Linked DNA regions of Homo sapiens. The protein of the gene in region 2 purifies or fractionates together with the protein of the main gene of each other region. This does not show direct contact. Each region holds a gene or a part of one and is shown on either strand. Other genes may lie near its edges. The genes, in order: HADHB and DIPK2A.

The links.
Region 1: the proteins of DIPK2A (region 2) and HADHB purify together in Homo sapiens (co-immunoprecipitation; 2 studies listed by IntAct). This does not show direct contact.

The regions. Positions count from the first base shown.
Region 1 is NC_000002.12:26,261,481-26,276,637, forward strand, and holds part of HADHB (trifunctional enzyme subunit beta, mitochondrial isoform 1 precursor), read left to right. Parts: intron 1-1,899; coding exon 1,900-1,999; intron 2,000-8,472; coding exon 8,473-8,517; intron 8,518-12,170; coding exon 12,171-12,270; intron 12,271-15,157. UniProt on the Homo sapiens protein: Mitochondrial trifunctional enzyme catalyzes the last three of the four reactions of the mitochondrial beta-oxidation pathway.
Region 2 is NC_000003.12:143,963,085-143,978,603, reverse strand, and holds the start of DIPK2A (divergent protein kinase domain 2A isoform a precursor), read right to left. Parts: upstream 6,782-15,519; 5' UTR 6,272-6,781; coding exon 5,615-6,271; intron 5,524-5,614; exon of another isoform or gene 5,072-5,523; coding exon of another isoform or gene 5,042-5,071; intron 1-5,041. UniProt on the Homo sapiens protein: May play a role in cardiomyocyte proliferation through paracrine signaling and activation of the PPI3K-AKT-CDK7 signaling cascade.

The DNA.
Region 1 (15,157 bases), on a different chromosome or scaffold from region 2:
GTTTAAAAATGAGGCCAGGCGCAGTGCCTTATGCCGGTAATCCCAACACTTTGGGAAGCCAAGGCTGGCGGATCACTTGAGGTCAGGAGTTCAAGACCAGCCTGGCAAACAAGGTAAAACCCCATCTTTACTAAAAATATAAAAACTAGCCAGGTGTGGTGTCGTGTGCCTGTAATCCCAACTGCTTGGGAGGCTGAGGCAGGAGAATTGCTTGAACCTGGGAAGTGGAGGTTGCAGTTAGCCGAGATCGTGCCACAGCACTCCAGCCTTGGCGACAGAGCAAGGCATCATCTCAAAAAAAAAAAATTAAGTCCCCTTTTTTTTCCAAAACCAGTTCTCACTTTGTTTCGGGTAGCTAGGTATTCTTAGTCTCTAAGATTCCTTTATAATCCTGTTTTCCTCTTTCCTTTCTTTCTATATCTGATTGGTTGCCAACATACCTTGTTTTCTTTTATAAACTTCCTCTTTACTCATGTTGATACTGCCTTTATCCTGGCCTTTTGTGCCACATGCTTGGGTTTGCCACAGTCTCTTTGCTTACCTCCTTGTTGCCTTTATCTCCTTCACCAGCAGCACTTCTCCATGAATGCTGCCAGCGTCATCTTTATGCCCTATTTTATCATGACTATTAACTCTCACTAATATTTCTTTAAAGTTGGTTGTAGATGTTTACTATAAATACTTCTCTGTGACATTAACAGGTGTGGTAAGGTCGTTGTTGACATTGTATTCCCAATAATTTAGGATTTTTTTCTATCTTTGATAAGGAATAATGATAGAGTAGGTAAATTCCAACATTAACAAAAACAAGAAAATAATGAACTAGATTTTGATATACTAACATGGAATGTTCTTCGAGCTATATTGTTAAGCCAATAAAATATACATAATATACAAGTATATGCATGTAAGTGCACTAAAAGAAACGATTTGAAAGTATATACACCAAATAAACAGACTTTACCTCTTAGAAGAAAATAGTGTGGTAGGCGAAGGCATAAAGAGGGAACTTTAGTTTTTACTCTCCATAGTTCAGTATTATTTACTTTTTAAAAAAAACCATAGGCACACATTTATATTTTATTCTTTAATTTAAGAAACCTAAAGGAAGTTTGCTTTTTTGAGATTAAAAAGTATTTAGGCATGTAGATTTTTGCAGAATAGCAAGTCACCAACCAAGTGCCCCTTATTTCCACGTAGAAAAGGTAAGAACATCAAGCTATGTGAAGAGTGAACAATATCAATCATTGCAACTTCTAATATTAAGGGTAGATTTGCGTGTAAATTTGGTTACTTCTAATGAAATAGGTTGTCAAACACTTAGTAAAAATGAACTATTTTGTTAATGGCATAAATTCCCTCATCATTGGATATAAGCTTTGTTTATCTTAAATATTATTTAGAAACTTACAAATGCTAGTCAATTTCTTAGCCTTTTTTTAAAAAAAAATTAAAGTGGTTTAGTAAATGGCAAATGCAAGTTGGCATTAATGATGTAATAATTCTTAGAATGACTATCTTAAAAAATGTAAAAGTAGGCCAGGCACGGTAGCTCACATCTGTAATCCCAGCAGTTTGGGAGGCTGAGGCGGGCAGATCACCTGAGGTCAGGAGTTTGAGACCAGTCTGGCCAACATGGTGAAACCCCATCTCTACAAAAATACAAAAATTAGCTGGGCATGATGGCAGGTGCCTGTAATCCCAGCTACTCAGGAGGTTGAGGCAGGAGAATTGCTTGAATCCGGGAGGCAGAGGTTGCAGTGAGCCGAGATCACGCCATTGCACTCCAGCCTGGGTGACAGAGCGAGACTCCATCTTAAAAAAAAAAAAAAAAAGTAAAAGTCATCAGACTTTATATATTTTAATTAGTAGTTTTTGTTTTTAAACTTTATCTTAAAGCTGTCCAGACCAAAACGAAGAAGACGTTAGCCAAACCCAATATAAGGAATGTTGTGGTGGTGGATGGTGTTCGCACTCCATTTTTGCTGTCTGGCACTTCGTAAGTATGACATGATCATATTATTTTTTTCCTTCTTTTAAGACACTTTCAAAAGTAGTCTTTGTAAATGTAACCCAGTAGGTAATAATATTGTTAGTGGACTAATATTTGGATAGCAGTCCCATGAAATTAATATAGAATAAGTCAAGACAGTGGTGAAATAATATGGCAACATTTGTTTTTTATCCTTCTCATGAATAAGTCTAGCGTAGTTTTACTTGAAACAGCTCTATTTTGAAAACCTAGAGGTCCAGATAGCTTGCTTCCAACAGAGCTGTCCTTTCCTTTTCTGGAGACAAGTACATTGTCCCTGTTTCTCCTCAGAAGTTTGAGTGCTGAAGATGTGGGCCATGGGCATTCTGAAGGGCCTATATAATCCACTGGTTTGGCCTCCTGGAAATTATTAAAATTGGAGTTGATAGGGCTGGTCCAAACCCCCAGCATAGCACAACCCCAAGTGTGTGGGACCAGAATGGTCCTAGACCAGCTCCAGAATTCCCTAGATCCAAATTGCTCTTCTCCTTGGCCTTTTGTGCTTCTTTTCTGTCCCCGAGTGAAGGTTAGTCTATCCAAAAGCTGATAATGGACTTTGATAACAAGGTTTAAACTGTTCATTCTATTCTGTTTAGATTGTTTTAATGTTTATATTTTGAATAGGTAGTTGCCAGCTTTAAAAAAATGCTGCGGAATGTTAGGCATCTGTTAAAAAGAATGAGACCTATCTTTATATACTAATATGGAAGACCTAAGATCTTGAAGATATGTTAAGTATAAAAAGCAAGGTTCAGGCTGGGTGCAGTGGCTCACACCTGTAATCCCAGCACTTTGGGAGGCCAAGGCAAGAGGATTACTTGAGCCCAGGAGTTCAAGACCAGCCTGGGTAACATAGCAAGACCTTGTCTCTGCAGAAAATAAAAAATATTAGCTGGGCATGGTGGTACATACCTGTAGTCCCAGCTACTCAGGAGGCTGAGGTGGGAGGATCACTTGAGCCTGGGAGGTCAAGGCTGCAGTGAGCCGTGATCATGCTACTACCTATACTCCAGCCTGGGTGACAGAGCAAGACTCCATCTCAAAAAAAAAAAAAAAAAAAAGCAAGGTGCACAGTATTGTGTATAGTGTGCAATGACTTATGAAAGATACACATGTGTGTGTGTATGTGTGTATACACACACAACAAAGGTTCATTTTTAAACAGATGGTTTGGGACCTACAAATATATTTTCTTACAGAAGTAATGCTATATGTTGGCCAGGCACGTGGCTCATGCCTGTAATCCCAGCACTTTGGAAGGCTAAGGTGGGTGGATCACTTGAGGCCAGGAGTTCATGGCAAAACCCTGTCTCTACTAAATACAAAAATTAGCTGGGTGTAGTGGTATGCACCTCTAGTCCCAGCTACTCGAGACACTAAGGCATGAGAATCTCATGAACCCAAGAGGTGGAGGTTGCAGTGAGCCAAGATCATGCCACTGTACTCCAGCCTGGGCAACACAGCGAGACCCTGTTTCAAAAAAAAAAAAAAAGAAGAAGAAGTAATGCTATAAGTAAATGGTAGTGACGTTTCTTTATTCATCCTATTTTATCAATATAGTAATCCACTTAACGATGTTTCTATAATCTCTTTCCTGTACTGACACAACAGTAAAAGTAAGAATCAGAAGGCTTTAGCAGCAGGAAGAAGATGATGTCCTCCTTTTACTCAGCAGCAATAAAATAGAAAAAGTTCCATCAAGACATGAAAGTTCTTGGCTAGGAAGACTTTTTTTGTAAGGATCATTATATATTATGTAGGTGTTTGATACTGTTTTACTAGCTGTTAAAAAATACAAACAGGCCAGGTTCAGTGGCTCACACCTGTAATCCCAACACTTTGGGAGGCCAAGGCAGGTGGATCACCTGAGGTTAGGAGTTTGAGACCAGCCCGGCCAATATGGCAAAACCCCATCTCTACTAAAAATACAAAAATTAGCTAGGTGTGGTGGTGCATGCCTGTAGTCCCAGCTACTTGGGAGGCTGAGGCAGGAGAATCACTTGAACCTGGGAGGTGGAGGTTGTGATGAGCTGAGATTGTGCCACTGTACTCCAGCCTGGGTGACAGAGCAAAACTCCATCTCAAAACAACAACAACAACAACAACAACAAAACACCCAAACATACTCAACTGTTTCATTTACTTTTATTAAACATTTGATGATTAGTATTTGCATGAAGTTTAATTTGAGGTATTTACCAAATTGGCATAGGGTTGTTCCTTTCTTTGTTGTGTATTGTGTTTTAGTTTAATTCAGGATTCTGGTTCATGAGCAATCTAGTGGTACAGAGAAGAGAAAAACATTGAGTAATGTAAGAAATGATAGTGAATAGGGAAGAAAGAATCAAAAGTATTTTAAGGCAATATTCATGTAAAGAACAAAAGTCACTAAAAAATAACATTAGAGGCCAGGTGCAGTGGCTCACACCTATAATTCCAGCGCTTTGGGAGGCGGAGGCGGGAGGATCATTCAAGGCCAGGAGTTTGAGACTGGCTTGAGCAACATATGAGCAACATAACTAGACACCTATCCCCAACGCCTCCTCACCCCCTACCTCCCAGTCCTATCTCTACAAAAAAAAGAAAAAAAAAAAGGTGTTTTAATTAGCCAGGCATGGTGGTGCATGCCCCTAGTCCTAGCTACTTGGGAGGCTGGGGCGGGAGGATTGCTTAAGCCTAGGAGTTTGAGGCTGCAGTGGGCTATGAACGTATATGAGCTATGCTATTGCACTTCAACCTGGGTGACAGAGCCAGACCTTGTCTCTTAAAAAAAAATTAATAATAATAACATAGAGGGAAAATGTATAAGGACAACAATTTTTACATTATTGATGTTAGGATTGAAGTACCAAATGAGTCTTCTGTAATAGAAGATCATTTTCTAAGTGGAAAAAGTCTTTTTCTGTTTAATTTGCAGAAACGTTGCTTTCAACTTGAGTGTTATTTGGAAGGCCAGGTTCTTATGGGTAGGGGCATTTGGGAAGCACTCCCGGGAATAGACTCTAGCAGTGGAATTCAGAAGTCTGTCAATCATTCAGGTAGAGGAGTGTGAGAGTATGAGAATAAAGATTGTAAATGATAAGTTGGCTGGGCGCAGTGGCTCACGTCTGTAATCCCAGCACTTTGGGAGGCTGAGGCGGGCGGATCACCTGAGGTCAGGTGTTTGAGACCAGCCTGGCCAACATGGCGAGACCCTATCTCTACTAAAAATACAAAAATTAGCCAGGCATGGTGGCGTGCACCTGTAATCCCAGCTACTTGGGAGGCTGAGGTGGGAGACTATCTTGAGCCCAGGAAGCACGTTGCACCACTGCACTCCAGCCCTCCAGCCTTGGTGATGGAGTGAGACACTCTCTCTCAAAAAAAAAAAAAAAAAAAAAAAGGATTGTAAATGATAAATAATTTATGGCTTAGGCATTTTCAAATTGACACATGACTTTTCCCCAAATAATTCTGTCCTAAATTTGAGGAAACTGGATTTACCTATGAAAAATTTGGAAAACTACTCATGGTTCTCCTGTGATTCTGAGTGAAAATGACAGTAAAAATATTTTGGAGTTTTTAAGTTTTAATTTTCAGGGACTTGAAGAATGAATCTTCTTATTTAATCCAATGATTAAATCTCTGACTTAAAAATAAAGAGAATTTATTTTTGATCTTTAAACAAACAAACAAATAAATAGAGTTCATACCCAGATCTTGGTTTCTAAATAGCAGTCTTCAATACAAAGAACCAGAGCTCCTTTGAAGAATGATTAGGGCTGAGCCAGAGAAAAGACAGGATGAGCAAGGAGAACTTGTAGTGCCGGAAAGCAAAGAAGTACTTAAAAAAAAGAGGGGTTCAGGGGGTCATGTCAAAAAGACACAGGTCTGACCTGCAGGAGCTACCGGTCACCAAAACTGCAATGATTTGAGCAATAAAATAAATTGCAATAGTATTGGAACATAACCCAAAGAATAAAACAAATGCCTACGAGTCTAATCTGATATAAATAAGTGAATAAATAAATACACATTGGGAGGCCAAGGTGAATGGATCGCTTGAGGTCAGGAGTTCGAGACCAGCCTGGCCAACATGGTGAAACCCCTTCTCTACTAAAAATACAAAAATTAGCTGGATTTGGTGGCAGGCGCCTATAATCCCAGCTACTCAGGAGGCTGAGGCAGGAGAATCGATTGAACCCGGGAGGCAGAGGTTGCGGTGAGCCGACATCGTGCCACTGCACTCCAGCCTGGGCAACAGAGTGAGACTCTGTCTCAAAAAAAAAAAAAAAAAAGAGTAAATAAATGAGAAAGAATGAACAAGTCTTCCTTACAGAAGAATTTTGATTAATAAATATAGGAGGACTGTGTACAGTGGTTCACACATGTAATCCCAGCACTTTGGGAGGCTGAGGTAGGAGGATTGCTTGAGGCCAGGAGTTCGAGACCGGCATGGACAAAGTGAGACTCCATCTCTGCAAAAACTAAAAATGAAAAATTAGCTGGGTGTGGTAGCAGACACCGGTAGTCCTACCTACAAGGGAGGCCGAAGTGGGAAGATTGCTTGAGCCCATGAGTTTGAGGCTGCAGTGACCTGTGATTGCACCACTGCATTCCAGTCTGAGTGACAGAGTGAGACCCTATCTCAAAAAATAAAAATAAATAAAGAATGAGAAAAATAACCATTAGAATACCACATAATACTTGCTGCGAGATCTACAAATGAATGCTAAAATTAGGTGAAATGCTAAGAAGAAACAGAATATTTGCATAGTCTCAGAGAATCTCCCCCAAAATATTTATCAATTACTATGATGATTTCGACATACGTCCGCAAAGTCTGTGTTATTCCTGCCACTGGAAGGTGGAACTTAATTCTCCCCTCAGAATGTGGGCTAGACTTAGTGACTCACTTCTAACAAATTGAGATAAGAAAGGAAAAAATAGTAACTTTATAGTGGAGTAAACTGGCAGACATCACTTGACCCAAATCATCACTTTAACATCACTGGTAGTAAGTCATGTTGATATCATGTGCCCCCTGATACGAAGCTAAGAGAAATACAGTTTACCTCTGTGATATTCTTCCCCTAAATCCATAACCCCAGTCTTCAAAAGTGTCAAGGTCATGAAAGACAAGGAAGACTGAGAAACTGTCACAAATTGGAGGAGACTGAGGAGGCATGACAACTAAATGCAACATGGTATCTTGGATTGAATCTTGGAACAGAAAAAGGACATTAGTGGAACAACTGGTGAGACTCAGATAGGTAGTAGCTTAGTGAATAGTATTGTGCCAATGTTCATTTCTTAGTTTTAATAAGTATATCATGGTTATGTAAGATGTCAGTATTAGAAAAAGCAGGGGAAGGCTGGGCGCGGTGACTCACGTCTGTAATCCCAGCACTTTGGGAGGCCAAGGCGGGCAAATCACCTGAGGTCAGGAGTTCAGGACCAGCGTGGCCAACATGGTGAAATCCCATCTCTACTAAAAATACAAAAAAATCAGCTGGGCGTGGTGGTGGGTGCCCGTAATCCCAGCTATTCGGGAAGCTGAGGCAGGAGAATTGCTTGAACCCTGGAGGTGGAGGTTGCAGTGAGCTGAGATTGCGCCATTGCACTTCAGCCTGGGCAACAAGAGCGAACCTCCGTCTTAAAAAAAAAAAAAAAACAGCAGGGGGAAAGAGGAACTCTGCTCTCTTTTTCCAATTCTTATTTATGTATTTACACAGGGTCTTGCTCTGCTGCCCAGACTGGAGTGCAGTGGTGTGATCCTAGCAGCCTCAAATTCATGGCCTTAAGCAGTCTTCTCACCTCAGCCTCCCAAGTAGCTAGGACTACAGATCCATGCCACCACGCCTGGCTAATTTTTAATATTTTTTGTAAGAGACAAGGTCTTGCTTGCTCTGTTACCCAGGCTGGTCTTGAACTCCTGGCCTCAAGTAGTCATATCACCTCAGCCTCCCAAAATGTTGGGATTCTAGGTGTGAGCCACCATGCTTGGCCTCTTTCCAATTCTTTGGTAAATCTCAAGTTACTTAAAAGCAAAAAGTTTCTTCAAAAGTCCTAATACATCACCTGTAGCCCTGTAGGCATTACAAAATAAATAAATAATATACTTTTAAAATAAAATGTTTAAAGGAAAAGAGACCTCAAAGGTGGGGCTTCACTTTAAAGAAAATTTAGCATATGTTATACTGAACATTAAGGTGTTGGACAACATTTTTGTTCGATTCTTAGCAAGCTCAGGAGGAGTTAAGGCTTGCTAGACTTTTAAGGATGACAAATAGCGAAGTCACACTATTTCTTCATTTGAAATGATGGACTGCCTTGGATAGTAAAGTTAAGTGTGTTTGTAGCAGCATGTGTTTGATGATCTCTGGGTATTTCAAATAGAATGAAAATTTTTCATTGAAGCTCTAGGGTTTTGGTTTAAATTACTGGTTTTCGTTCCCCAGATATAAAGACCTGATGCCACATGATTTGGCTAGAGCAGCGCTTACGTAAGTAAATGCAGTTTCATTTCCGTTCTTATTTCATTAAAGGCACTTTCTCCAGTTTTTACACATAAAATAGCAATTTGTTCTTATTTTAGCCATCTGTACTATACAAATTTAAGCAGCTTATGAATATTGTCAATCTTTATTTTGCAGGCCTAACAGTGTCTTAGCCTGACAGTATACTTTAATGCTACCTTAGCTAGCCACAGGACTCGATTGATCAGCCTAAACACAATACATATATTTGATGATTGCCTTAGGAACTTGTATAAGGGTAGCTGAACAGATTATGTAGATATTTACCTAGAAAGAAGCCTAAAAGACACCTGAAGATTCATGTGCAAACCAAGTAAAAATGTAAAATTAGATGTAGTTAAATAAGATTAGGCTGGATGAATAATTTGGTTGAGAATCATTAAATGTGTTGCTGTTTCATAACATGTAAGGCATTATCTCTTCATTTTCCACTGACACTTTGCCTTTGTGTCTTCAACCAGCCACAGTTCTTTCTTAGTTTGGAGAAACCCTTCAGTTGACCTTTCTGTCCATTCTAACTCTATGTTTGTTTTTTTTTTCTTCCTGCAATACCTCAAGCATGAGTGAAAGAGCAGTTGTTTCTGTTTCCTTATTATTAGTTTCCTCTGTCTAATTGTATAATCATTATTTCCATTTTCCCTTTGTTTTACAGAAACCATACTTTAGAATCTTCTCTTAATAATGGTTTTATGATTGCTCAATGTACTGATCCTTTCTCAGTCCTCTGTCTCTGTACTTTATAGCACTTGACACTGTAAGCTATAATCACCTCTCTTCTGTTGACTTCTTAGTAATATGCCTTTATGATTTTTCTTTTTCTTCTGTATCCTGACTGATTCTTCTGTAGCTTTTTTTTTTTTTTTTTTGAGACGGAGTCTCGCTCTGTCACCCAGGCTGGAGTGCAGTGGCGTGATTTCGGCTCACTGCAAGCTCTGCCTGCCGGGTTCACGCCATTCTCCTGCCTCAGCCTCCCGAGTACCTGGGACTACAGGCGCCTGCCACCATGCCCGGCTAATTTTTTTTTTCTTTTTTTTTTTTGTATTTTTAGTAGAGACGGGGTTTCACTGTGTTAGCCAGGATGGTGTCGATCTCCTGACCTCGTGATCCGCCCTCCTCGGCCTCCCAAAGTGCTGGGCTTACAGGTGTGAGCCACTGCGCCCGGCCGATTCTTCTCTAGCTTAAAAAAAAAAAACTGGGCCAAGCACGGTGGCTCACTCCTGTAATCCCAGCACTTTGGGAGGCTGAGGTGGGCAGATCACCTGAGGTCGGGAGTTCAAGACCAGCCTGACCAACATGGAGAAACCCCATCTCTACTAAAAATACAAAATTAGCTGGGCGTAGTAGCACATGCCTGTAATGCCAGCTACTTGGAAGGCTGAGGCAGGAGAATCCCTTGAACCTGGGAGGCAGAGGTTGCAGTGAGCCGAGATCACGCCATTGCACTCCAGCCTGGGCAACAAGAGCAAAACTCCGTCTCAAAAAATAAAAATAAAAAACCACACACACACACAACTGGATCTCTCCCTCTTTCTCTTTTTGAAAGGTGTTTTGCAAGTTTCATTCCTTAGAGCTTTGCATTTCTCTGTATGCATATTTTCCTTTAAAAATCTCATCTACTAGCTAGGCATGGTGTCTTACACCTATAATCCCAGCACTTTAGGAAACCAAGGCAGGAGGATCAAGGTAGGAGGATCTTTTGAGCCCAGGAGTTTGAGACCAGCCTAAGCAACATAGTAAGACTCCATCTCTACAAAAAAAAATTTTAAAAATTAGCCAACCAAGAGAATTCAGCTCAGGAGTTGAAGGTTGCAGTGAGCTATGATTCCACTACTAGACTCCAGGCAGGGCAATCGAGCAAGACTTTGTCTCAAAAAAAAAATTTTTTTTAAATTTTTAATTTATTTTTTTCTGTATGGAGTCTCACTCTGTCCAAGGCTGGAGTGCAGTTGCTTGATCATAGCTCACTGCAACCTCGAAGCCTCCCAGGTAACTGGGACTATAGGCGTAAGCCAATGTTTCTAACCCTCTTTTTAGTTTTTTTAATTGATAAAAAACTACAGATTTTACAGATTTTTATTTATTTATTTCATTGTAGCCAAGTTTAGTCATTACTCATTTTGAAGCTCAGCTTATTCCACATTTTATCTGGCACTCCTTCAAGTTGGCTCCTGTGTGCCTTTTGTTTTTTAGTATAATGCTGGTTGTTGATATATAATTTGCATGCAATAAAGTGCACAGATTTTAAGTGTATAGTTTGATGAGTTTTGACAAATGTATATACCCCGTGTTCCTGTTTTTGATATGGTCCCATTTGTCTTTTTTTTTTTTTTTTGACACAGAGTTTCGCTCTTGTTGCGCAAATTGGAGTGCAGTGGCACGATCTCGGCTCACTGCAGCCTCCGCCTCCCAGGTTCAAGCAATTCTCCTGCCTCAGCCTTCCGAGTAGCTGGAATTACAGGCACATGCCACCAGTCTTGGCTAATTTTTTTTGTATTTTTAGTAGAGACGGGGTTTTGCTGTGTTAGCCAGGCTGGTCTCGAACTCCTGTCCTCAAGTGATCCGCCTGCCTCGGCCTCCCAAAGTGCTAGGATTACAGGCTTAAACCACTGTGCCCGGCTGATATGGTCCCATTTGTCTTTGAGTGCTTCCTTACTTTTGGCACAAAAAAGATGGAAATTCACTTTGTACTTTCTTCTGGACCTGGTATCAGTCATTTCTTAAAAAACCTTTTGTCCTTTTAATGGGGAATGGCATTTAGAAACCAAATCTGGGGCCGGGTATAGTGGCTTACACCTATAATCCCAGCACTTTGGGAGGCCAAGGCTGGTGGATCACTTGCAGTCAGGAGTCCGAGACCAGCCTGGCTAACATGGTGAACCCTGTTTCTACTAAAAATACAAAAATAAGCCAGGCATCATGGCAGGCGCTTGTAGCCCCAGCTACTCAGGAGGCTGAGGTGAGAGAACCACTTAAACCCAGGAGGTGGAGGTTGCAGTGAGCCGAGATTGTGCCAGTACACTCCATCCAGCCTGGGTGAAAGGGCAAGATTCTTATCTCAAAAAAAAAAAAAGGAAACCAAGTCTGGGTTCAGGGAGTGCTCATTCCTACTGGAGTGTTATTGTGTCTAGTTTCTATTCATGGGCACAACTAGAATATATGTATTATTTCAATCATTTGTTGATACTGATATTTCAAACTAAAATTTAACATACCCAGGACTTCTTTTTTTTTAATTTTTTTTAATAGTCTTAAGGGAGACTTTGCTTTATCTCTTTGATTGAATATTTGTCTCTCTTTTTCACTGCAAACTTTGGTTTCTACTAACATTAATTAACATTAATTTATAGGTTTCTTATCTATTTTATTCTATTCCAAATTATTTTTTATTCTCTAACTTCTCATTACCAATTCAGCATCAAATGTTGACTTTTAAAATCACTCTTTCATTCATTTCTTCTTTGAGAAGGTGCCAAATGCTTGTCAAATTAAAGAAAAGATACAGTCTCTGTCCTTTTAAATTCAAGGCTAACCTTTTTCAAGGAGCGCAGTGTTTTGTGTGATGATCTCTGGCACTGCCTTGATGTGTGAAATGTTTCTTTGCTTTGGATTTCTACTTCCAGGGGTTTGTTGCATCGGACCAGTGTCCCTAAGGAAGTAGTTGATTATATCATCTTTGGTACAGTTATTCAGGAAGTGAAAACAAGCAATGTGGCTAGAGAGGTGAGTAAAACAAACTTTATGTTGTTTAAAGAGTGATAGGAGAATCACTTTGAATTTCAATTAATAGAAGTTACTTTACAAAAGCCTTTAAAATCTATTGAGTTACATTTGACCTAAAATGTGATTTTACAGCTTGGGTAATGTGTTATTTAATATGTAAAAGAATTCTAATATAAATCAAATGACATACACTATATTAGTGTATATCCATACTTTACTGTAAATCAAATAAATTATTTGAGCTGGTTTAGGACATTGTCTCTTGTGTTAGGAAAATAGAGATCAGCAAAGTGTGGCTGATAGTATTTTTAGTAATGTTAGATATCATGGCTTCCAATTAATTTAAAATTTCAACATGTTGCAGAGAACTAATTTCATAACTTGACTTTTGTTAGCTGGAAGTAGCCTTGCTTACTCATTTGTTCCCATCAACTAGATGGCACGTAAGGCAGCTTGGCTTTTTAAAAACTATTTCACAGGAGTTTACTTTTGCCCTAGTTGGCATAGCTCCATGTAGTGTCGATTGGGCAACCAAGATAATGACAGGCCTTGGAACTTCTAGGATGTGTCCTACAGGCAAATCCAAACACGTCTTCTGGGCTGTGTTTTCATTTAAAATCGATTGGATGAAGTTGGCACCAAAAGCACATTTCATTGTACTCAGTATTTTCCCTAGTTCTGGTCTGTGCTTGCCATATTGTTGGGTTCAGTATCACTGTCAACTGAGAGACAAGGGCACATGAGCAGGACTGAAAGTATTTGTTCTGTTCCACCTCTGTACCTGGCAGAAATGTTAGAACTGCCAAAGGCCTGGCATGACTGAAGCCTACGAAACTAACTGTGTGCTGTTGAGGGGCAGGAAGGAATTAACAATAGGAAGAGATTTTATTTCCCTTCTGAAATTTTTTGTTTTTCCTTGAACCTTGACATTTCTGAATGTTTCAAATATGATAATTTCATGAGTACATCAAGCTGCTCATAATACATTTTCAACTTTTATATTCTGAAAATAACCTATTACTTTTATAAGAGCACTTAAGATGTAAATAGTAAATTTTTTTGCTGTTTTCTCCTCTTGCTCAGCTTTTTATCCCATCCTTTCTTCCTTCTCCTCCTCCTCAAAAAATAAAAAAATAAATAAATAAAAATAAATGTTTCCATTTTCTCTGTAATTCAGTTCTTTTTTTCCTAAAACTAAAGCCATAATGTTTTCCTCTGAAATTTTTCCTGGAAATTTTACATCCATTTGCAGATCTCAGCTATTGATTGACAGGAGGTAGATTCCCTCTGCCTGCCCTGTACTAATACCAGTTATGTTGTGCTCCAGGTAATTTTTGCAGCATCTGCAGGGAGAGATTGGGTTGAGGGGGATACATTATGAGAATGTCACTCTAAAGCTGTATTGCAACCTAAAAGCTAACATAATTTCCAGCCAAAGAATTTCTTAGGCCCTATTGCCTGTATTAATAATGTTAATATACAGTCCTTGCAACCTAAAAGCTAACATAATTTTCAGCCAAAGAGTTTCTTAGGCCCTATTGCCTGTATTAATAATGTTAATATACAGTCCTAAAAGGCTCCTGGTGTTCATGAACCTGACTTTGTTGAAAGGTTCAGCATATTTCCCTGTTCTCCAGCTTAAAGACATCTTCCTCCTTTTCCCTTAGTGCCCTGAGAGCTATTCAAATTTCAATAGAAGTGTGTGGACAAGGGTCACCAATAGCCACCTCTATTTAAAGCTCCTTCCGTCCTGAGAGTCATCTAGGGCCAAGGGCAACACAAATTAGAAAGGCCCTTGTGAGAATCGAGCCATTGCAACCTAAGTGCCCCTTTTACACTTGCCCTTTGCAGAGCTCTTCCCTCCTGCCCCCCTGAGATACTTGCGTCTCTCTTCCTTTCGGATTGGTTTACGTTGAGAGGCTGATGCACAGGTGCCTGGCAGAAGTTCTCAACAAAGCAGGTTGGGCATTTAGTATCAGGCCTACCTGGAAAGACCAGAATGAGGTCATGTTGCAGTTACATCACTAACACATTTCTGTTTCTATAGATTATGGTAAATAGCATAAAAGTAAGTAAGTATAAAGGTAAAAATCAGTTAAGAGACATTGAATTTCTAATTGAGACTTTGGAAACATTTATTTTACTAAATTATAGGAGAGTGTGTTCTGAGGATAATTAATAGTTTCAGGGAAAGAATACTAAAAATGAATTCCCTATAATGGGATCCAGTATTTCATAGTAAATATTGTGTGGGTGTGTATGTGGGAGGAAATCTGGAAGCTTTATTTCTAAAGTAAAACTTTAATATTATAAAAATAAGTATTTTATAATTGCACCTGTGCATTAATTATTTACATAAACAAAAATGGAATCAGACGTTGATTGGTTTTTGACAGCATAATTTCCCCCAATAAATAGTATAATAAAATTATAGATGTGCTCATTTCATGTTTGACTTTCACTGTGCCATTATAATAGAGGCCATTTTTAAAAGATTAATAATGACCTCAGTTTTTCTTAAAGCCGCTCAGATGACAAATTATTCTCTTTGTATCACGTATTATGCCATCATCCTGGCCACTTGTTAGTTGGTCTGACCCTTATTTGTTCACAGACTCACTTGTAACTCAGGCAATTCTCCAGTTTCTTTCATTGAGTTGAGCTTCTGTATAGTTGGCAAGTTTTCCAGTTCATCTTTGCATTGGGTCTGCAGTGTGCTATCTGAAGTATCAGACGGTCAGTAAGAGAAACCAGCTGGCAGTGAGCAGAAAGATAGGTGTAAAGCAGACAGGGTCTTGAGTGGGAACTCTGTTTATGAAGGGTCAGTTCTTTAGAAATCATTTTCATGTTTAATCACTTTTGCTTTGCTGCTAAGCTTTGTGACTGA
Region 2 (15,519 bases):
AGATAGATAGATAGATATAGATACCTTTTGTACAGGGCTTATTAAATGGATTGTATAATAATTAGTTATTTGTGTACCTACCTCCTACATAGTAAGCTACTTGTTTCCTACGGCCATCTTTCCATCCTTTCAATCCAAATGCCTTGTAACAGATTGTAAAATGAACAGACAAATTCAGTTCTTTTGGTTATAAATTCAAAGAGCTCTCAAGAATTTCACAGACAACTTCCTATCACCTTATACTAACCTCACCTTACACTAATAATTTTCAGTCATGTTACAACCATTTACTAAAGTTCATCAAATGTATTAGAAAAATGCAGGATTTAAATTATAAGGCCATAATTTAACATATGGGTAATGAGTGAAAGCTGAAGAAAGAAAAAAATAGCATTCTGTGAAGAGTCAGCAGCAATGACAGAAAAATAGGAAGTAAGCCAGAGCCCACAAACCAAAAAAACAGAATAAAAACCAGTCTGACAATCCCCTGAGAAGCTGGACACCCATGTCCAGAAGACCTATAAAAACAAGCTTTCTATTTCCCAACATGTGTGAGAATATGTGCTAACCTATGCAATGGAAATATAAAGAATAGTTCAAAGACTAGACAAAAGTATACAAAGGACAAAATTCAAAATGGTCAAAAGATATGGATATGTCCAGAAACTAGTCCAGGATGTCAAATGACTTTGCTCTACTGATTCTGAAGTGATGCTTTCTTAAGGGCGATTGTCTGTTTCTAGGGTCTTTCTAAAATAAAAGTCCCCACCCCCTTTTTGGACTTGAGGTATCCAAAATTGTTTTATTATTTTTGTTTGATTATCTTGAAGAGCAATCAAAAGTGTCAATGGACTCTCAGATGAAAAGCCACAAAAAGTTCAAAAACTTACAAAATTTATTAGATTAAAAACTGCTCTACTAAGAACCATCTCTAATGTGTTCTGAAGCCGAAATCTAGGAAGACAGTTACTAAAGAAACAGCCAGTAAAGGAGAAGTAGGTGGTTCCTTAAACTGTTGTTTGAAAAGAAACTCCTGAAACAAAGTCTGGAACATCGTTTTGCACACTATTGCCTCACAAGATCCTTGGCTACCCTTAACTCCACATATTTCCCCTTAAAGGAAGGTTTTGGTTTTTGTTTTATTTCATGTGTGTAAAAATTTGGGGGTAGGAAGAAAGGCTTGAAAGAGAGCATCCCACTCCCAATCCCCTTTCAGAAGAGCTTAATTAAACCCACTCGTTAAAGTTCAAAAGAAAACAACAACAACAACAACAACAATAAAAACCAAATTTCTCAAGAGTTTGAAAGCCCCAGAATGTTGGAGCTGAAAAGGATCTAATCCAATAGCTTCATTTTATAAAGAAGGAAGTGAGTCCAATAGTAAAAATCTATCAACTTTTCTAAAGTACCGTTAGCTAAATAATCTTTTGTTTACTTCAAAAACTACATTTTCACCAGTGAACTTAAAAAATATGTTGTTCCCTATATAAATTACTTTTAAAGGCAAAAACAACATTCACTGAAAGTTTTCTACAAAAAATTATATCAAAGTAATAATGGAAAAAAATCAGTATAACTAAAGTATGGTTGATATTCAAAATCACCATTATTTTTAAGGTGATCCATACCCCAAATGAGCTTCAAAACAGCTGATCAAATGCACCAGGCAGTTAAAGTTACCTTTACTTTATTCAATATCTAACATTTATTGAATGCTTACAATTTACCAGATACTACGTGAAGTGCTTTGCATGTATTATATCATTTATAAGAATAGAAAAGCAAGCTTAAAAACCATAGCTTAATGATAGTCATATACTATAAAAATAAAGTAAATCCTATTAAAACCATGATTCAGAAAATTTAAGGCAAATGAAGTTCCACAAATAGTAACATTCCCAGCTCGTCCCCCTAAACAACAAAGAGCTTTCTCCATTTCCTACAAACAAGACCATCTTCACTACTTCCAGGTTATAAAGTCAGAGATTCTGTCTGAACTTCAACAAATCCAGACAGCATCTCTCTCTCTCTCTCTCTCTCTCTCTCTCACACACACACACACACACACACACTCTCCCTTTCTGTAAATTCAATAGGTTAAATACAAATACGATGGAAAATTTATCAACAATAACTTGTGATCTTGCCAATTACTTCAACAACTCAATTTTTGAATACTTCAAGATTCCTATTTACACAATATAAAAGTCAACATAGTTCCTCTCCTCCATTTTTTTTTTCATAGGATTACAGTATACCTGGCACTAAAATACACACATCTTAGTGAAGTAAAAATGTGACGACGAGGAAAGGGTATCAGAGTAGAAGATAAAGGTACTACTAGCATTATCTTGTTGCTTGATGTTTATAAACATTTTTTAGAAGATAATAATTCTATGGGTAAACTGTTGTAAACTAGTGAAACTATCCAACAATAAGAAGAAAGCCATACTCTCATGCCATTTCATATGGGGAAATTTATATCACAAATCTTTACAGCCTTACATAGATAAGGTATGTGTGTAAACATCTTAGACACTTAATGTCTTTCACCTCTCCTTTCAAGGAATAATAGCAACTTCAATTTTTTACTGTTTTTTCAAATCAGAAGAGGTGAGTTTAATGGATTAAATTCGTAAGTATTTTTCAGTTCTTAAACACCTTATCAAAAGAAATTTTTACATGCTTATTTTGAAGCATGCTTACGATACTGGAAGTTTTGTTAAGAATACTTGGATGAAGTCAGTTCAAAGACTTTTTTTTCCCTGAAGTTGTTAATTTTTGGACAATATAAGAAAAATCTAGTTTGTCACCAGCTGTCCAAAAATTCGACAAGTAGCTCCCTCTCCTGGAGGAAAAAAGTGAGTTCCTCTTCAAGCTGTTAAAACACTTGTACTCTTAAAAATATATTTTTTAATACATGAAGCAATAGACAGCCAAATCTGAGTTTTTCTGTATCAATTAATATCCCAGTATTACTGTAAACAGCTATAAACAGTTTTATAAAAACCTGTATAAATACTAAAAATGTAGTTTCCTAGCTAACAAAGGTAATGAACATCATGGTTTGACTTACTGTACAGCAACTTTTGTACTTGATCACAGAATGTTGAGATACCTTTCATTTTGGTGGTTTTATACAATCATCAAACCTCAAGTATATTGTTCAGACTTGTAAATTCACTAGCTTTTTCCAAAGATCAAGTGATTCTACAAAGAAAGCAGCGGCTCTCTGAAAACTCTTACTTAAAAATATCTTCTTCCTCTACTTGCTTGTTAATCAGGTTTTAAAAAAATTACATGCCTATATGACTGGCTGGTACTAAAGACCCCAAAATTATATTACACAGTATGTACTCAGCTATAATTATAATACATATATTAGTATTAGTACTATTCCTGGGAACTGGGTTGTGTAAATTAAAAATGTAATTTACAAACCTCACTCTAAAACGTGGAGACATGTTTCATCACATACTAAAAACAAATTCTTATCCTATGGCCCATGTGTTTACCCACTCAAAGTAGCTGTGTCATTATGTGTCATATATAAGAAAATAATTGTGCTTTTTCAAAAAAGGCTGTTTCATCACTAAAGATGAGAACAGATAAAGAGTAAGTTTGAGGGAAAAGTTAAACAGAAAACAAGATACACGCACACTTGACTATCTCAACTACAAAGTAAACTGAGAATGCCATGAGAAGTTCAAACTTAAAAAAATATAAAACCTTCCTGCACAAAGCACAAATTTACCTTAGTGTAAATCAGATGCCAAAGTTTCTCAAATTCAATGCTATGACTACACTTAAAAAGAACTGGCCACATAATGTTCTTAAAATATCAATTCTACTGTTAGTTGTTACTAATACATCACTATTCAAAATTACCTAAAAAAAAAAAATCTTTCGGTAGGGACGCCAGCATTTTAAGTACAGTAAATGTATATTACTAAGACAGCTCCTTGCTAAATTTCTGGGTCTCAGAGAATTTGTCCGGGTATCTACTTCAGCAAAATGCTAACACGATCTCCAAGAACCAACCTTGCTAATACAAACAAGGTTCTCTTTTAAAGATAGCTTAATGAGAAACTTCAGTTCAAGTGTATGTACATCATAAATACAGGCTAAACCTTTAGAGACTGACTAGTTTGGGAACTACTGAATAAAGAAAATTTCTTCAAGGAAAGTTTAACCAGTTTTATGCATCCATTCAGTTAGGTGATACAGCAGTATTTAAAACACACTCTGACTTTAAAATTAACCCAATACACATAGCCTCTGATGTCCTAAAATTTACTAAGACCCACACTAAAGTTTCATCTGAAGCCAAATATTTGTGTTACATTATTTGGCTGAACTAATCAAACGAAGCTGGTTTCTTTTAAAGCTAAAATGGGCAGTGTAGAGCTTGAGAAAAGAAAATAATATAAAGAAATCTGCACTTTCCTATTCATGCATTTTAGAAAAATAAAAAAAAAAAAAACCCTGTACCTCCAGCCCTCAGTGACAGCAACCCAGAAAGAATGTGAAGTATACCAAAATTACTTGTGAACTTTTAAGTCATTTTTTTCTCTTGTCATGGAAAGGAGCACGGTAACTTTTCCTGCAGACAGAAGGAGAAACCACAACCCCACAGTTGTAATCACTGTTCAAGGACACCGCACTGAAGCTGGGTGGGAATGTGCAGAAACAAGCAAATACTCCGAAAGTAAACAGTGTTTTTGTTTTTTGTTCTCTTTTTGATGTCACCAGTAAAGATTCCATCCTATTCCCCTAAAAGGCACATTACTTTTCAAAACAGTCAGACGAGAGCAAACAACGCAACTGGCGAAAGGCAAGAATCTCCTTCCCTGATACTCGCCCTGGCCTAATATTTCATCTCCCTTCAACTAGATTACCAGATGAATAGGGCAGGTCACAGGATCAGGATGAAAACGTCTGTCTGGCCTTAAGCCCTCCCAGCCCCAAGTCCAACGCTGCCTTACTTTTCCTGTTTCTGATTCTAATCCCACCCAAAGCTCGGCTCACAGATTAAACCCACCCCGACCACTGTCCCGTTCTCCGACTTCATCCTCCCCAACTTGTCCTCGAATTAGGTGTCCAAATGACTGCCAGGTAAATGAGCGAAAACAAAGACTCTGAGACCGAAGTTAGGCCAGCCACCAGCGCCAGAAAAGGAAGAGCGAACGCGGTGTAGAACACTTCAGAAGAACTAGGAAAGGTCCAAGGGCTCGTGAACAGTCTGCGCCGCGGACCTGCAAGCCCCGGCAGATAAAAGCAGAAAGGCAGGGTAGAGAGCGGAAGGAAACTCGCAGTAGAGACATTTTGGGGAGTGTTAAGAGACGCACTCCCTCTGGCGTTGAAAGATCCACAGTCAAATCCGAAATGCGCCCGAATCTAGGTAACAAGAGCAGACTCTCCATCAGCGGGGTCGCCCTCGGCCTCCCTGCACAGCCCCGGGGCTCCCCCGGAGACGCCCCTTCCCACGCCTGCAGCCTGGCCCAGCCCGGCCGAGTCCGAACTGGCGGCAAGCGCTGGCTGAGCCACTTCTCCCGACTCTGATTCCCACGCGCGGCCCCTCCCAGGACGCCCCCTGCCCTGGCTCCGCGCCTACCTGTAGCACCAGCGGCTCGGGGTTGAAGGCCAGGGTCAGCAGCAGCTGCATGCGCTCCGAGTCCTTGAGGTTGCGAAGCAGGAAGCTGCCCGAGTCCTTGGTCTCCGCGTAGCGGCGCACCAGGCGGTCGAGAAGGCGCTGCGAGGGGCAGTGCACCAGGTCCGACCAGCCCTCCACCGCCTCGGGCGTGAGCAGACGCACGTCGCCGTTGAGGCGCGCGAACTCGGTCCGGGGCATGGCCTGCAGCAGGTCGCAGCGGGGCCGGCCGGTGGCCCGCTTGCAGATGCTCTGGTCGAGCTGCGCCAGCTCGCGCTGCGAGCCGAGGCGCTTGAGCACCACTCGGCGGCGGCCGCCCTCGCGGGGCTCGCCGTACTGCGCGAAGTACACGTTCTTCACGTTGAGGAAGTCCAGCAGGCGCAAGCGGCCCCACGCCTCGAATACCACCTGCCCGTTGAGGAAGCGGCGGCACCAGCTCGTGCCGAAGCACGCCGGGCACTTATTGAGCTGCAGGAAGCGCCGGTCGGTCAGTTCGTTGCGCTGCCAAGAGGCGAGCAGCGACGGCGAGTGCAGCACCATCAGCACCAACAGGCTGCCCAGCGCCGCCAGCTTCAGCGAGCGGGACAGGCGGCCCAGCTTCGGGGGCACCAGGCGCCACATACCGCCCGCCCGCCCGCAACGGGAGGGCGAGGGCACCCCCGGGGCGCCCCCGCCGCGCCAAGACCCGGAGAGCTACCGGCAGGAACCCCGGGCGAGAGAAGGAGCTAGCGCGCGGGCTGGGGCGGAGGGCGGAGTAGGTGTGTGAGAGAGGAAGACGGGGAGCGGGAAGGCGCGGGCCTGAGCGGGCTGCGACTTCTCCCAGTCACTAGTCTCCACAACTCTCGAGCTCCCTCCTCCTAGCTCCCCGCCCTCCGACTCCGGCGGCGCCTCCTCCACGCCAGCCAAGTTATAGAGGAGCGGGAGGGGGAGGGAGCGCGGGGACCCGACGGTCGCGCGCCCGTGCCCGCGCGCACGCGCACTGCTGGCTTCGCACAAGAGCTGCGGCGGCAGCCAGCCACGACAAGTGGGGTCTGCGAGGAAAGGAGGGACTCACGGAAGGGGAAGAGGAGCTAGGATGTCTCACACCCACAAGCAGCAACGCACGTCTCAGAGCCGCACACCCTTGCTTGTGCGCGCTGGCTCTCCTGAGACCAAGAAGGGGAGCCGGGGGCGGGGCCAGAGGGGCGGAGCGAGCGCGTCGCGCGCCGCCCGGAAAGCGTAAGCGGGAGCTCGCGGGAGCGGGTGTGGGGGCGGTTCAGAGAGGGGGAAGCTCGGGCTCTTGAGGTGGGGGCATGAACTCGCGGTTTCTGGTTTCAGAAAGAGTCTTAATTACAGTCATCTTTTATGATTATTGTGGTTTACTGGTGCGTTCCTTTCACTATTGTGGAAACGGCCCTTTAAGGGAGGAGGGAATAAGAAGAAATGAACTGAGGAAGTCTATTGCAAATCCTTCCCTCTGGACGGCGCGCGAGGCGGAGGCAGAGCTGGCGCGATTGCCTCCCCTCGCCTTATATGGGTTGGGTGCGCGCCTGGGGGGTGGGGCGAGGCCGGGGAGTGCCCGACGGGGGCTTGTGTTCCCCTCAGCTCGTGCTCCTCGCGGTAGGGGGTGGGGCCTGTGAGGAAGACGGTGAGAAAGGCTCGAGTAGTGGCGGGTTTGTTGGAGCTTCATCTTTGGGGTTGTATCTGTAAAATCATTTAAAATTTTCTTGAGTGAGCACAAAATAAAGTTCTCAAGCCACCGTGTTAAAGGGAAAATAGGATGAAGGGGAACCGACGCGGCCTGGTGTCGCCAGGACGTCTGCCCCAAGCGCCGCGAAGAAGCCGGGAAGAGTTTGCCAGGCTTGCCTCTGCTGCCCGCCGGCTGCCCTAGCCCGTCCCCGGAGCCCTGCGGTTCCTCTCCGCAAAGCTGATTTCCCGGTGCCGCCCCTGAGGGTCCCTGAGGAGCGGGCCGCGAAGCGTTGCCCTGGCGGTAGCCATGGGGACCCGGGGCTGCTTGGTGCTCCGCACGGTCACGTTGACTCAGTCACCCCAGACTGCAAAAGTAAGGCGCAGATGCCGCACGAAAGCACTGTGTTTAGGGATAAGTTTCAGGGGACCCGGACTGTTTAGCAGTAGCGCTAGTAGATACATTATTATGCTATTCACTTTTAGTGCTAGAGTAGTTAAAATGAGAAGTGATTTTTAGTCTGAGGGACAGGTGGTTCCTGATACGTTATTAAACAACTGAGTCTTAACTGAGTTAATTTTAGGGCTTGAACAGTGCTTTTAGAAGACCATGGTAACTGGCATGTGTAGATCAACTCTACAGCGGGTTAATAAGAAACATCTATACCAGGTTATCAAAAGTAACAATACTTTCAGTATTGTTTAATTGTAACAGGTATTTGTTACAAATTCTTATAAGAACTCAGATTTTGAAAAAAAAACTTTGAGAAATTTAATAAATTCAAAATAGACGTGATTTTGTAACGATTTGCATTGAATACGGACAGACAAATTGAAATAATATTCAAAGCTTTCTAGAAATTGACTTACTGTACTTAAGTTTGGCTACTTCTGCCTAGTGCCTTATGCCGCCTTTGGTGGGAATTTTATTTAACTTGCTTTCAAATATCCCCAAACTCCATATAATATAGAGTTAAAAGCTCAAGTGAGATTTTCTTAGGAAAAGGAGTTTGGTGTGATGGTTCTGGAGACCTGTGCTGTAGTTCAGCTGTGAGGCTGCTGCTGCTGCTGAATTGTAAACAAAGCAAGTTATTACTTAACTACAAATTTCTTCTTTCTGACATCTTTTCTATATGCCTCATAAATTTGTTCGATTAATAGTAGACAATCTATTTAGAATTGGTTTAAAACAATAAAAGTACTACATAAGTTGCCATTAAACTGATTAAGCTGAGAGAACCGGGGCATAGTGAGACTATTTAGGTAACTAGTAACAGGATTAAGGAGGTACCTGTACTGCTTCTTTGTATCGAATAGGTCTTTGGAGTTCTTAAACTATTCTCAGCCTCCAGATGCTTGGAATTGTATAGGCATCATTTGAAACATGGAAATAAAACACGGTTACTAGTCTACACAATTTGAATTTTGAAAAACATTTGCTCTGCATCTAAGTAGTTTACATTTGTTTAAAAGCTCTGATCTTTTCAGTTAAATTTTCTAGATGTTTATCAGGAGAGATAGTTTTCAAGAACTTAATACATTCATCAAAAGGAAAAAAGTCTTAGAACTATACAAGATAAACATATAGTGTTCCAAAGTGCCATATTAAGGTTTGCAAAATATCTCTTAATTGGGGCCAGGCACGGTGGCTCACCCCCGTAATCCCAGCACTTTGGGAGGCCGAGGCAGGCGGATCACGAGGTCAGGAGATCAAGACCATCCTGGCCAACACGGTGAAACCCTGTCTCTACTAAAAATACAAAAATTAGCCAGGCATGGCGGCGCACGCCTGTAGTCCCACCTACTCGGGAGGCTGAGGCTGGAGAATTGCTTGAACCCAGGAAGCGGAGGCTGCAGTGAGCCGAGATGGCGCCACTGCACTCCAGCCTTGGCGACAGAGCAAAAACTCCGTTTCCAAAAAAAAAAACTCTAAGTGAAGGTTAATGTGCATTACTCACCTTTCCTATAAACTACAGGATGCTTTCAACCAGTGGATCATTTAAAGTTCTTGACCATTATTTTAAGTAATGGCAAATAATGTAATTTCCAGTGCATTGTAAAATGTCATTTTACAGTAACTATCACTGTTTTAAATATTATCAGATGGAATTAAATACCATAGTAGTTTGATACTAACATCCATTTTGATAGTCAAAGTTTTACATTGTATTACTATTCTATTCTCTACTGCAGTGGTTCTCAGCAAGGGACTGTTGCCTCCCAGGGGCCAGTTGGCAATGTCTGGAGACATTTTTGATTTCATAAACTAGGGAGTGGGGTACTACTGTTGTCTAGTGGGAACATGCCAAGGATGCTGCAAAATATCCTACATTGCAAAAGACAACCCCCAACAACAAGAAATTAACCCACTCAACATCTCAATAGTGTGCTGTTGAGAAACCCTGACTAACAAGAATTCTATATAGTACGGTTTTAGGCATAAGCCTTATTGGTTATCCTTTCCTGCAGCAAAAAATATGTGTATACCGTTGTCCCTTGAACAACACAGGTTTGAATTGTACTCATACATAGATTTTTTTCAACCAAATGAGGATCAAAAATATAGTATATGCTGTATATGAAACCCAAGGACAGCTGACTTTTACTGTAAGCAGGTTCTGCAGGACTAGCTGCAGAACTTGTGTATGAGAGGATTTTGGTATACCGGGGGTCCTGGAACCAATCCCAGGTATATACCAACAGACAACTGTATTTAAATTTTGTGTATATCCTGTGATCATAATCTCCTAAATGCTAACATAGGAATTTTTTGTATGATTACAACTATAATTAGTGTTCAGCTGATCAAAATAACAAATATCCCAATTTGAATAAATATAAAAAGTAACATTTTATTGAAATGTATTTCTTAATTAGCTTGGGCATTTTTTTAAAATTAGGTTTCCATGAACAAATATTATTTATTGCTAGAATCAGACGAAGTCTAACATCAGTTTTCTCTCTTCTTCGCTTTTAGAGATGTAAGGGCCAAAACATCTTCATTTATGTTTAAAAATAAAAAGAATGTTTATATAGCAATTTCATTCATTTCTTTTTATTCCTTTTGACTAGAATCATTTACCGATAGTGATCTATCATCAGAATATTCTGAATGACATACCAATTAGGTTTTCCAAGTTAGTTGGATTTAGAAGCAAAGCATTGGAAGCCCATCCTGGAAAATGATTTTTTTACTTGGGTATTAGAATTATTTTATCATATTGACTATATTCAGTGCTCTGGCAGTCATGTCCTGAGACAGTGCACTATAGTAAGATTCAGGGTGGATAAGAGGTATTCGTTTTGTAAAGTCCAAAAAGATAATTTCCTGTATACTAAAGAACCCAGAACAGTGTCTGGTTTAAGTGGTTTGTTCCAGTAGTAGGTGGATTAACAATTGAAGGAATAAACACTTTCAGTATTATTGTAATAATCCAAACTAGAAATGATGGGTATTAGCTGGTTAAAAAAAAAAAAAAAAAAAAGCTAGCACATTCTGGATATATTGTGAACGTAGAGCTAACAAAGTTTACTCAAGATTTTAATGTGAGAGAAAGGCAAGCATCAGGTATTATGGCATGGTTTTTGTCTTAAACTATTGTAAGAATTACCATTTGTCTAAGCCCTTTGGGGCTGCTGGAACAAAAATATCTTAGACTAGTGGCTTATAAACAACAGAAATTTCTTTCTCACAGTTTTGGGGGCAAGTCCATGATCAAAGTGCTTGCAAATTTTGTGTTGGGTGTTTTCCTCATTCATAAATGTTTCTGCTGTGTCTTCGCATGGCAGAAGGGACAAGGGAATCACTCTGGGGTCTCTTTTATAAGAATACAAGTCACCTCCCAAAGGACCCACCTCCAGATACCATCACATTGAGGATTAGGGCTCAACATATGAATTATGGCACAAGGGGGTGGGGGTGCAACTGACACAACCATTCAGATCCTAGCACCATGTACTGAGATGAGGGAGACTGAGAGGAAAAGGATGAGGAAGATGCAAGTACAGTTCACGTGTCCATATTCTTCAGTGTCCATTTATGTTTCAATTACCTGATTTATGTGTGTTAGGAGAGGTACCTTAAGGACCAGTTTTGTTAAAGGGTTTTTTTTTTAATCTGTTTAGCATTTTAACCGAATTTTTAAAACATCTTATTGTATTTTAAATCCATAACTCTCTACATAGGTATTTTCTAGGACAGATTCTGTATCAAACAGTTGGCTTCATTGGTTGTAAAAATAGAATTGTCAAACATACATACTAAAACCATGATTTTGCTTGAAATAATTGAATCACATAATTTTCTGACCTTGTCAGAATAATACAAATTAGCCCAAATGCAACTGTAACATTATAATTCATGATTTATATTAATTCAAAATATTATGCAGTGTTATAGTTTTCCACATTGACTAGGTTAATAGAGAGGCACATTTTCCTTTTGCTCAGTACATTTTTAAAACTTGTTTTTTTCCAGTTTGTTTCAGCACAGAACACAATATTTACAAATATTTAAAAAATTAACACATCACTGAGAGGGGACTTATGTACCCACTTGTTAAGATCTTTTGAAAATTAAGTCATGTATGTAGGTATAAATTAACATTACAATAGTCTATTTTAAAGATTGGCATGCATTCTAACAGTGTGGTTTATTTAGTTCCAACCATGTACAAGATTCTGGGTGTGTGGTTTCTCAGAGTCCAGTGGAGGAGGCAGATACATGCATACCAACATTCATTACATGTTTGTGACAAATAGATAAAATAAATATTAAAAGAGCACAAACAAAAAATTCCTGTAGCTATAGATGTTATATTTGCACTTATATGACTCCCCTCAGGAGAATAGGCTGTGTACACTAGGAGAATTTTGCTGCTGCTTTGTCAACTGTTTTTCTCTCAAGCCTCACATCCTAAGTCTCCTACCTTTCCTCATTCTGACTTGTGCAAATGGTGTTCCTGCCACCTCTATGGATGATGGAGGCTACACAGCTCTTCTCTCTGGGCAAGCATGCCAGAGATCTTGGAGAACAGCAACTGCCTGTTCAGAGCAAAAGCATTCATCCGGATAACAAAAGTGCCACCTTCTTTCTGACTCAGTTTTCTTTACCAGGCTCCTTTTGTAGAAACCACTTGTATAGGTAAAAGACCTGCTATAGTCTTCAATCTAATGGCCGTGCCAGTTTTAAAGGTCAGCCACAGCTGGGAGAGAGAGGCCAGGTAAGTGTTACACTTGGGTATCAAATATAATGTGTATTTAATGTTCAAAATGATATAGTCCAGAAATGTCCATTTTGTTTTCTTCTTACAAAAGGACTTATAAAACTCTATAGGCAAATAATTAAGATATCTAATTTTGGGGAACTAACTATAGAGATGTCTTATTATCCAGTGTAGTCTAATCAAGGAGTATGGCCAGTAGAATTATGGGTTCACCCAAGAGAGTCTCCATCTTTGAACTATAATTGATACACTGGTCTATCTGATTTGACACATCATCACCTTCTCCTCTGTCCTTTGCAGCTTCATGCCTTTCTGTAGATTGATATCCAGGACATTTTTCTTTTATATTTGGGAAATGGTAAAGTTCTAATTATTTTTTGACAAATCAGGAATTAAAATTTAAATTACATCAAATGAAATAGAAATATGACATACTGTTTTGTTATAATTAGGTTTCCTTGAAGAATTTGCCTGCTACTTAGAAAATAAAACTTGAAAAATTATAAATAAGTGAAATATATTTTGTGCTGATTTAATCATAAGATAACCAGACCATAAGAACTTGTTGGCAAACTGAAAGTAACAATTTAATGGATTAAACTAGGATATCATGATATATTTAATTATTCTAAGATAAAGTGACCCCTAATTGCAGTCATCAGTATGCAGGTTAAATAAATACAGTTATTGGAGTTCTAAAAGGAATGTTAAACTCTGTAAAAATCATTACATCATTCGATAGTTAACGTGTATGTCTATCCATTTTTTTGGAATGTATCATCCTACCAAAATGACTACCAATGAATTGCATTTTTACATTGTTTTTCCACATAACACTGGAAATAGATTGCAAAGGACATTTCAGGGAAAATTCTAAGAAAATAATTATTTTAAAAATTACTTTCCTCCAGTCATGGTGCCTGATGCCTATAATCCCAGCTCTTTGGGAGGCCAAAGCAGGCAGATCACTTGAGCCCAGGAGTTTAAGACCAGCCTGGGCAATGTGATGAAACCCTGTCTCAACAATAAATACACACACACACACACTCACACACACACACTAGCCAGGCATGATGGCGCGCACCAGTAGTCCCAGCAACTTGGGAGGTTGAGATGGGAGGATCACTTGAGCTCAGGAGGTCGAGACTGCAAGTGAGCCATGTTCCTACCACCGTACTCTAGGTGACAGAGCAAGACCCTACCTCAAAGAAAAAATTACTTTCAGATTCCACAGATTTTTCTAAGTCAGTATTAAAAGAAAAATATTTTTCAAATAAAACATTAGCCTATGTTTTTTATAATTTTTCTATTGTTGGCATATAGAAATAAAATTGCTTTTTTAATATTGTCTTTGCAATTAGGAAAATTGCTAATAGTCATCACCATTAACTACTGCAGTAGTTTCTTTTGGGTTTTCCATACAAATGTTATATAAATTATAATAGCATCATTTTTAAACCTTTCAAATACCTAGGCATAAATTGAAGGAAGGATGTACGTCTCTACACTGAAAACTACAAGTCAATATTGAGCGAAATTAAATATCTAAATAAATAAAAGTATATAATGTGTTCAAGGATTACTGGATTTAATACTGTAAAGATAACAGATGTAAAAATGTTAATTTATAATTCAATATAACCCTCATCAAAATTCCAGCAAATTAAAATACATATATTGACAAGCTGGCTGGGCACAATGGCTCACACCTGTAATCCCAGCACTTTGGGAGGCCGAGGTGGGCAGATCACTTGAGCTCAGGAGTTCAAGACCAGCTTGGGCAACATAGTGAGACGCAGTATCTAGAAAAAAAAATAAAATAGCAAGGGGTAGTGGCACCTGCCTGTAGTCCCAGCTACTCAGGAGGCTGATGTGGAACGATTGCTTGACCCTGGGAGGCAGAGATTGCAGTGAGCCAGAATTGCGCCATGCACTCCAGCCTGGGTGACAAAGCATGACTTGGTCTAAAAAAAAAAAAAAAAAAAAAAAAAAGACAAGCTTAAAGTTCACGTAGATATACAAAAGGCCACAAATAGCCAAGCCAATTTTGAAGGAGAGCAAAGCTGGAGGATTCAATGGATTCGAAGTACCATCATAAAGAATTAGTAATTGAGACATATTTGTTCAAAACAGTGAGATGAACTAATGGAACAGAATAGAAAATAATATAAAAACATACAGATCAGCTGACTTATGGCAAAAGTGACATCAATGCAGTGAGAAAAGGTGGTCTTTTCAATGAATGATGCAAGGTGAAGTGAATGTCACATAGGAAAAAAATGTATCTTGACTAGTAATTCACATACCACACTGTGCACAAAGAGTGATTCTAGAGTGGTGGCGTAACCAAATGTGCATAAAAACAAAGCCTTAAAACAAGAGGACATTTGCATGACCTTTGATAGGCAGCAGTTCCCCAAAACCCCCCTCAGGTTTAGTAATTCACTAGACAAACAGAACTCAGCAGAGTTATTATACTCATAGTTTGCTATATCAAAAGCTTATAGATTAAAATTAAATAGAAGGAAGCACATAGGGCAAGGTCCAGGAGAGACCAGACAGAGCTTCCAGTTGTCTTCTCCCAGTGGAGTTGTGTGGACAGTGCTTACTTATAGCAAAGATGTAATGGAACCTTGTGGCAATGGAACCAGGGAAGCTCAACCAAGCCTTGGTGTCCATTGTTTTTAGAGGACTGGAGGTGGGAGTGGGGAGGGTATCAATGGCGTAATTATGGCTCACTTCTCACATTGCTGACCTTGGAGTTGCCAGCCTCTCCAGAGGTCAATGTGATACCACATGACCCAAGGTCCCAACCATAAATAACAGTGTTAGCATAAACTGGTGATGCAGTTTGAGTATTTGTCCCTACCCAAATCTCATGTTGAATTGTAATCCTCAGTGCTGGAGGTGAGCCTGATGGGAGGTGTTTAGTCAAGGGGGCAGATCCCTCATGGCTAGGTGCTGTCTTCGCGATAGTTC